2 linked regions of the Homo sapiens genome follow. The protein of the gene in region 1 interacts with the protein of each later gene in a biochemical or structural test. Each region holds a gene or a part of one and is shown on either strand. Other genes may lie near its edges.

Region 1 (3,758 bases):
TGGAGGGACTGCGTGGTATTGCTGGGCTTCCCATTTCAGGAGACCTGGGCCCAGCAGTTCTATGACATGATGATGAGCACTCTGGACCCAAACCAGACACCTGGCCAGTGTCCTGATTCTGAGACTGAAGAGCCCTGTGAATGTGGGCAATGCCCTCCTGCTTTCTGGGGGTCATGGGTGGGGAATTAAATAGAAGATCAGCGCTTCCTTCTCAGCTCTTGCCTTATGAGTTTTTTATAACATCATTTCTCCTTTCTGGGTGTTAGTTTTCTCATCTATGTGAGGTAAGAAATTATCTCCAAGATCTGTCCAACTTGAAATAAAAATGAAAACAAAACACCTCAAATTCTGATTCTTTTGGACCGTTTCCCAGCATAGTTAACGAGCTCCCAGACCAGACACTTTACCTCCATTCTCAGGCGCTGAGGAGGGTGGAGCAGGCCTGCAATGCATATAGGGGAACAAAGGCCCAGAGACAGAGACGTGGGAACCATGCAGTGTAAAAAAGCGGGAGGTACCAGAGACAGAGACGTGGGGCCCATGCGGTGTAAAAAACCGGGAGGTACCTTCAGGACCCACAGCTGGGCCTCAGGGCCACAGCTGGGGTTTGGTGAACACTTCGCCTTGCACTTCATACTTCAGTGCCCGCCAGTTCAGGACATTAGGACTGAAGGGCCCGCCAAGATAGATGGTGTTAATCTCATCTGGTGACAGCACAAAGTCCCACATGTTCACATTTCCAATGTCTCCCACCAGGGACTGGCTTCCTTCAAAGTTCCCACCGAAGGAATCCTGCTCCTGCCCCAAGATGATGCTTGCTTCTGCCCCCACAGTGTATCCCTTCTTCAGACTCTTCCTCACCCTGGGCTTCCCATCTACCCAGAACTCCACGATCCCTGAGGCGGACTCCCAGCTTGTACAAATGTGTACTGGAGCTACTGTGACTTCAGGAACCTCGAATAATATTTCAGACCCACCCACTGTAAAACTGTATCCTATATCCTTAGACCAAAATATGAGAATCTCATTGTCTTGTCTCTTGGTGGCATACGAGAAAATACTGTACCCACGGGTCGAGGACAGTTCCGTGTAGAAGTGGAGGCACACAGTGAAGGCTTTGAGAGGCTTCGTTAACGGTGCTTTGAGGGATACATAGGAAGTATCCGACTCTTTGGGAAACACAAAAGCCTTCCTCGACATGTCTGTGAGCCAGAAAAACAAGCAAATGTGAGAGGTTTCTCAGATCACACAGATCTATCCCCTCACTTACGTATAGAATTTAAGATTGAGAAACAGACTGACCCCTTCTCCAGTTACACACCACACACACACACACACACACACACACACACACACACACCATGAAGGATGCTCCACTGTTCTGTTCATACAGTCTTTTTTTTTTTTTTTTGAGACTGTTCATGCAGTCTTAGACCCCACCCCCATACCTCAGATCAAATCTCTCCCATAGCCTGGGGTGGCCCTTACCTGTCTGGCCAAAAGCATGAGAGAGGCTGGTCAAGACCAAGAAACACAACAGCTTCTCCATGGTCACGTCCTGCTGCCAGTGATACAAGGGCCTGAATTCACTCCTTTGGAAAAGATGTATTCGGCTGAAAGTTCAGGGGCTAGAAGTCCTAGATCTCTTGCCTTAGAGCTACCTCCTCCTGCCTGGATTTATATCCAAAGCAGTAAGGGAGTTTGCGCCACTATGTAAATAATTTTCCAACATTGCTTGTTGGGGCAGGTGTCAGAGCTTCGGGAAGAGGGGAAGCAAAATTATTTCAGAACAGAGAAATCAATGTGAGTTATTTATTACAAACTCCTATGACTACTGAATTACCAATTCTTTATGACAGGAAAAATGAAGAAATCTCTCAGGGCTCCACTTTGGCTATCTATCCTGCGAAAATAATGGGAAATGGTAACATATTAAACGAGTGGCCATCTGGGTGCACGTGGTAGCTGCCTCTCCAACACCTACTTCAGCCCAAATCATAGAGTTTGACAAAGGAAATCTGACAGCTTCTGGAGATGGACATTATCACTAACCCCTTTCAATTTGCTTATTTACAGACTGGGAAATGAGGAAAACAAACATGCTCCTCCCAGAGCCATGGACACATTTTTTTATTATTATTATACTTTAAGTTTTAGGGTACATGTGCACAATGTGCAGGTTAGTTACATATGTATACATGTGCCATGCTGGTGTGCTGCACCCATTAACTCATCATTTAGCATTAGGTATATCTTCTAATGCTATCCCTCCCCCCTCCCCCCACCCCACAACAGTCCCCAGAGTGTGATGTTCCCCTTCCTGTGTCCAAGTATTCTCATTGTTCAATTCCCATCTATGAGTGAGAACACGCGGTGTTTGGTTTTTTGCATGGACACATTTTCTCAGCCAATTGAGTACACTTATTAAGAACTCTCTAGACATCTTGGCACTAAATGACGGCCCTGACAGTAAAAGTCCAGTAAAATGTGTGCCTGATCACAGACATAGCATTATATCAAAGTTTCTTCCAACATTTTTCTCTGAATATGTAAAGCTTCAGGCAGGAGTCAGGATAATCTGATTCTACTCTTTCCTCTATTCACAAGATTCAAGTAATCCCTCCACACTGTCTGTCAATCTTACTACAGTTCCCTACTTAACTCACTCTTCAAAATGACTATTATACTCCTTCTCCTTGCTCCTCAAGTCCCCAAAATCTCATTTATTCTTTCATTCAGCTGATGAACTCACCTTTCATTGAGAAGTTAGAAGCAATCAGAAAAGAACCACCGTATCCTTTGTAGTAGAGTCTTCTAGCCATTCCCTAACATCCATTCTCTACTTCTCATAAGAGAAGAATAACATTTTCAGTTGGGCGCTTGGTCATCCCCTCAAACACCAAATTTCCCAGCCCCCACTGTAGCTTGCAGTGATGATGTGATTAAATTAAGGCCAACGAGATATGAACAGAATAGGGACCATCTCTAGGTTGTGCTCTTTAAGAAAGGTATGTGCTTTCCCCTCCCACTTCCCCCTTTTTCCCTTTGACTAGTATTCAGTCATGATAGCAGGAGATGGAATAGTTCACTTTCAGGCCAGCAAGTGTAAGCTGCATGTTGAGGTTGGCATGGCAACAAGATAGATGGAGCCTGGATAATTGGGTATGGAGCCACTGCATCAGCTCTAGGCTGCCTACCTGAAAATTTACTTAAAGGAGAAATACTCTCCTCTTTTGTTAAATCACTGTTAACTCAGTCTTTCTGTTCTTAACACCTAACTGATATCCTTATATATCCTCCTACAACCCAATGTACCAGCCTTTCTGTCTTCCTCTATTAAAAGGGATGAGCTCTCCCTGTGTTACATCTAAGGCCAACCCTTGCAATTCTTCAGTGGATCCCAGACCCTGTCGACTATGCAAGGAATTTTGCTCCTATAGGTATCCTCTCTATCTTCTGTATTATTAATTTATTCATCTTTACTTGATCATTTCCACAAAACCATACTATAATATATTTAATCTTTTAGAGAAAGAAGAAAGAAAAGAGAAAAAAGGAAGGATGGGAGGGAGAGAGGGAGGAAGGAAGGAAAAGTTTACGTGGGTTGACAACCTCTATTTTCCATCTCCTGTTCCCTCCTCAATCCATGGAAATCAGCCATTGGCCTTCACCACTCTAGTGAAGCCAACATAAACAAACACCTCTCTCATTAAATCTAATAATGAATTTTCTGTTCTTATTTTACCCAGCTTCTTGGC
Region 2 (3,758 bases), about 37 Mb from region 1:
ATGGTTGTATTCTCTCTATGCCTTACGTGGTCTTTCTCTATATGGTGTGTCCTTATTTTCTCTTCTTATTGACACCAGTTATATTGGAGTAGGTCCCACCTGAATCATTGACCTTTAACTTAATTACATCTTTAAGCTCTCCTTCTTCAAATGCAGTCACATTCTCAGGTATTGGGAATTTGGACTTTTACAAATAAATTTTGGAGGGATGCAGTTGAGCCAATGCTACTGAATTCACAAAGATGTTTCTCACTACCCAAGATGTTATTCCACTAAATGAGTTACTTTCTCCTTTGAGAAATATAGGTGTGACCCAAATTTACAAGACATTTTTCTCAAGTTTACTCTTACAAAGAGTTCATTGGAGGAGAAAAGTTTTCAACTGGAATATCAAATAAGAAAGAATTTGTCAGCATTCTTTTCTTATACTGCTTTTGAGAAAGTAACTAAGAAAGTAGAGCTTATTCTAATCTAATTTCAGTCATTTCAAAATAGTACTGTTTTTCTCTATTTTTCTGCTTTGCATTCTACTTTAATCTATGTAATCCTTATTTTAAAAAATGTGCCTGTAGCAGTTTAGTTAACAAAGGGAATAACAAGAGAAATTCCTTTTTTTTCATTTTGGCACAAATCAAGGTTGATTTTGCACAGCAATTAAAACTAGCGAATCATGTGATAGATAATACTGTAAAACCTAAAGCTGTTTACTTAGAATCAAATAAAGTGGCATAGCTTTGAGAGGAGAGGCTGAGGGAAAAGATACTCTCAATAATTGATAGTGGGATTTCCAATATTATCCTCCATTACATTTGTTGGAATATTATAAAGTTTTGGATAATTATAAAATTTGTTTTCTTCATTAATGGTGACACACCTTTGATTGTCCATGATTTTTGACCCATGTGGTTCCACTGCTAATGTTACATACAATATAGTTCTTTAATATGCAAGGCCTGCATTCAAAGAGATAGTTAATATAGAAAATACATGACTATCGAGGAGAAAACATATCAGAGAACAATGACATAAAGCTATGAAAATTATTTATGTATTTATTTATTGAACATTTGCTAGTGAACTCAGAAATGCAAATTAAAATTTACTGTCATTCCAATGTAAGTTAAGTATATATTCTGCTTTTTGATTACATATATGTTGTGATTTACATATTGCTAATCTTGTTGAAATATTAAATTCATATTAATGTTAATTAGATGTAGCAGCTTTCTTAAGGTATAATAGAAATATAAGAAATGGCATAATTTAAAATATTTTATTTGCTGTTTTGATATATGAATCAATAAAAAATCACTGTATGTAAGATTATGAAAGTATCAATCACTCCCAAAGTTTCCCTTGTATTATGAATAAGAAAATTCTGAACATTTTAAGGTTAGAATCTATCTAATGACATGTTTCCTACTTAAAGTTTTATGAGTATATTCATATATCTCCATAATGAATATTAGATGCTTTTTACACTGTAGAATTTGTAAAACAAAGAAAATATTATTCATTTTTTCTTTAAATTATGAGATATTTTTTCATAAAATTAATTTCTGTTATACTCTCACAAAATATGCTACTTCTGCTAGCATAGTGAATATATCCTATCAGATTTATAAAAAAATTATAGACATATGAAGTTAGATATTACACGAAGTTACATTTAAGAGGGAAGCTGAGTGTTTAGATCTCTTTCAACTTACCTTGTCCATTAGCACAGGAAACCCACAAGGTCAGAATGACATTGATTAGTAACAACATGTTAGATATTCTCAGTAGTATAGTAATGCAAAAGTTTCAGTTGCACTGTTTGGGGTTTGAAATCTTTCATTATTAGTTACCAAGTGTGATTCTGAATTTAAGTGCACTACCACAAAGCTAGGGCTTTAAGGTCACTTAGTAAATATCAAAGTTCAGAGAGTTTTGCAAAATGCTTCAATGATTCTTGTTAGTGGTTTCACAATCATCTCTGGAATTGATTCCCTGGTATGTACATGTACAGCTTTATTTAGTGACAGTAATGGACCAACTCCAAAAGTAACATAAAACATTAATTCATTTTTATTTCTTATTTTTTAAGTAAAGAGAGTTTTAATACAGGGAATGAAAGGCTTCTGCAACTATTGGAAGCATTGAGGGACAAAGGTCAGAAATGCTATTTCCAGAAAATTCTGAAGTTCAGGAATCTTAGTGATGCCCTCACTAATTATCCATGGTGCTGCAGTGGATGTTTCTCAGGAAAACTTCCAGAAGCAAGGAAAGCTACTGTTGGTGATCTCAGCTGCTACCAGCAGCTGCTGACAGATAATGCCTTGTCTTTCTCTTCTTCCAAGTCTTCTTTAAGTACATCTCATGGGGGAATCTAAGGAAGAAGCAAGTTATGGAGAAACAGGCTTCAGAAACTGTAGTTTCAGACTTATCTTCTGCAATGGAGAAGAAAATGAAGATAGGAGCCGTGTTGACATCACGTTGAAAATAAACATCTGGCACACTATTCTACTTCTGAAAATCCTGCTGTTTGAGCATGGTAGGTTGTTTTTTTTCCACAAATGGTCATAATACTATCTCCTATCACACACATACTCTTCTTACAACGAGAACACTAATTTTAAAATTAAAGACTGGAAAATTGTTTGAAGTTCTTCCACAAGCAGATGAATCATAAATGAATATCTCTCAGGGTCCATGTTACTTTAATATTCTATCGTCCTTTGCTTCCCAATACCCAACTTAATTATTTAAGGATCGTATGAAAACAAACCAGTATGTCTGGACCCCATTCCACTGTCTGTATTTTCATGTGTTTAGAGTAGCATACTGATTTTGATAACTCACAATGGATCATACTGAGTACAAAAGTTTCAGCATATTCTTGATATCTCAATCTTTTTAAACTTGTGTTTTGGGGTATGTATTATTTTAAGGTACAATAAGGAACAATGGAGATAACCATTAGGTCTGGCTGCCTGAGAGCTGGGAAGAACAGAGCCACATTTCTCTTCTTACAAAAGCAAATAGGAGAAATATCACTGAATTCTTTCTCTCAGCAAGGAACAGCCCTGAGAAAGAGAATGCATTACTAGGGGGAGATCTCTGAAATGGCTGCTCTGGGAATGTCTGTCTTATACGGTTGCAGATAAGGGATGAAATAAGCCCTGGTTTTGGGTAGTGCTCCCAGGCTTATTAGGACGAGGAAATCCCGCCCAGTAAATTTTAGTCAGACGGGTTGTTTGCTCTCAAACCCTGCCTCCTGATAAGATGTTATCAATGACAATGCATGCCTGAAAATTCATTAGCAATTTTAATTTTGTCCTGGTGCTCTGCCCCCATTTGCCTTGTGATATTTTATTGGCTTGTGAAGCATGTGATCTCTGTGACCCACACCCTATTCGTACATTCCCTCCCCTTTGAAAATCACTAATAAAAACTTGCTGGTTTTGCAGCTTGGGGGGCATCACGGAATCTGCCAACATGTGATGTCTCCCCTGGACACCCAGCTTTAAAATTTCTCTCTTTTGTACTCTTTCCCTTTATTTCTCAGACCAGCTGACACTTAGGGAAATAGAAAAGAACCTACATTGAATTGCCAGGGGCTGGTTTCCCCCGATAAGCCCCAAAATCTATTTTAAGAGCATTTTTCTTAATTCATTTATACTAAAGCATTTATGACAATGCTAGTAATAAAACAGGTCACTACAGGTGTATATTACATTTTAAAGAAAATCATAACAGAATTTTATACATTAAAAGTC

What was found. Proteins that work in one complex are often made in the same cells at the same time.
Region 2: the proteins of CRP (region 1) and CFHR4 form a complex in vitro, tested with the Homo sapiens proteins (4 studies listed by IntAct, with this or other methods).

Annotation. Positions count from the first base shown.
Region 1 is NC_000001.11:159,712,937-159,716,694, forward strand, and holds the start of CRP (C-reactive protein isoform 1 precursor), read right to left. Parts: upstream 1,654-3,758; 5' UTR 1,550-1,653; coding exon 1,489-1,549; intron 1,203-1,488; coding exon 589-1,202; 3' UTR 1-588. UniProt on the Homo sapiens protein: Displays several functions associated with host defense: it promotes agglutination, bacterial capsular swelling, phagocytosis and complement fixation through its calcium-dependent binding to phosphorylcholine.
Region 2 is NC_000001.11:196,886,160-196,889,917, reverse strand, and holds the start of CFHR4 (complement factor H-related protein 4 isoform 1 precursor), read right to left. Parts: upstream 1,867-3,758; 5' UTR 1,768-1,866; coding exon 1,710-1,767; intron 1-1,709.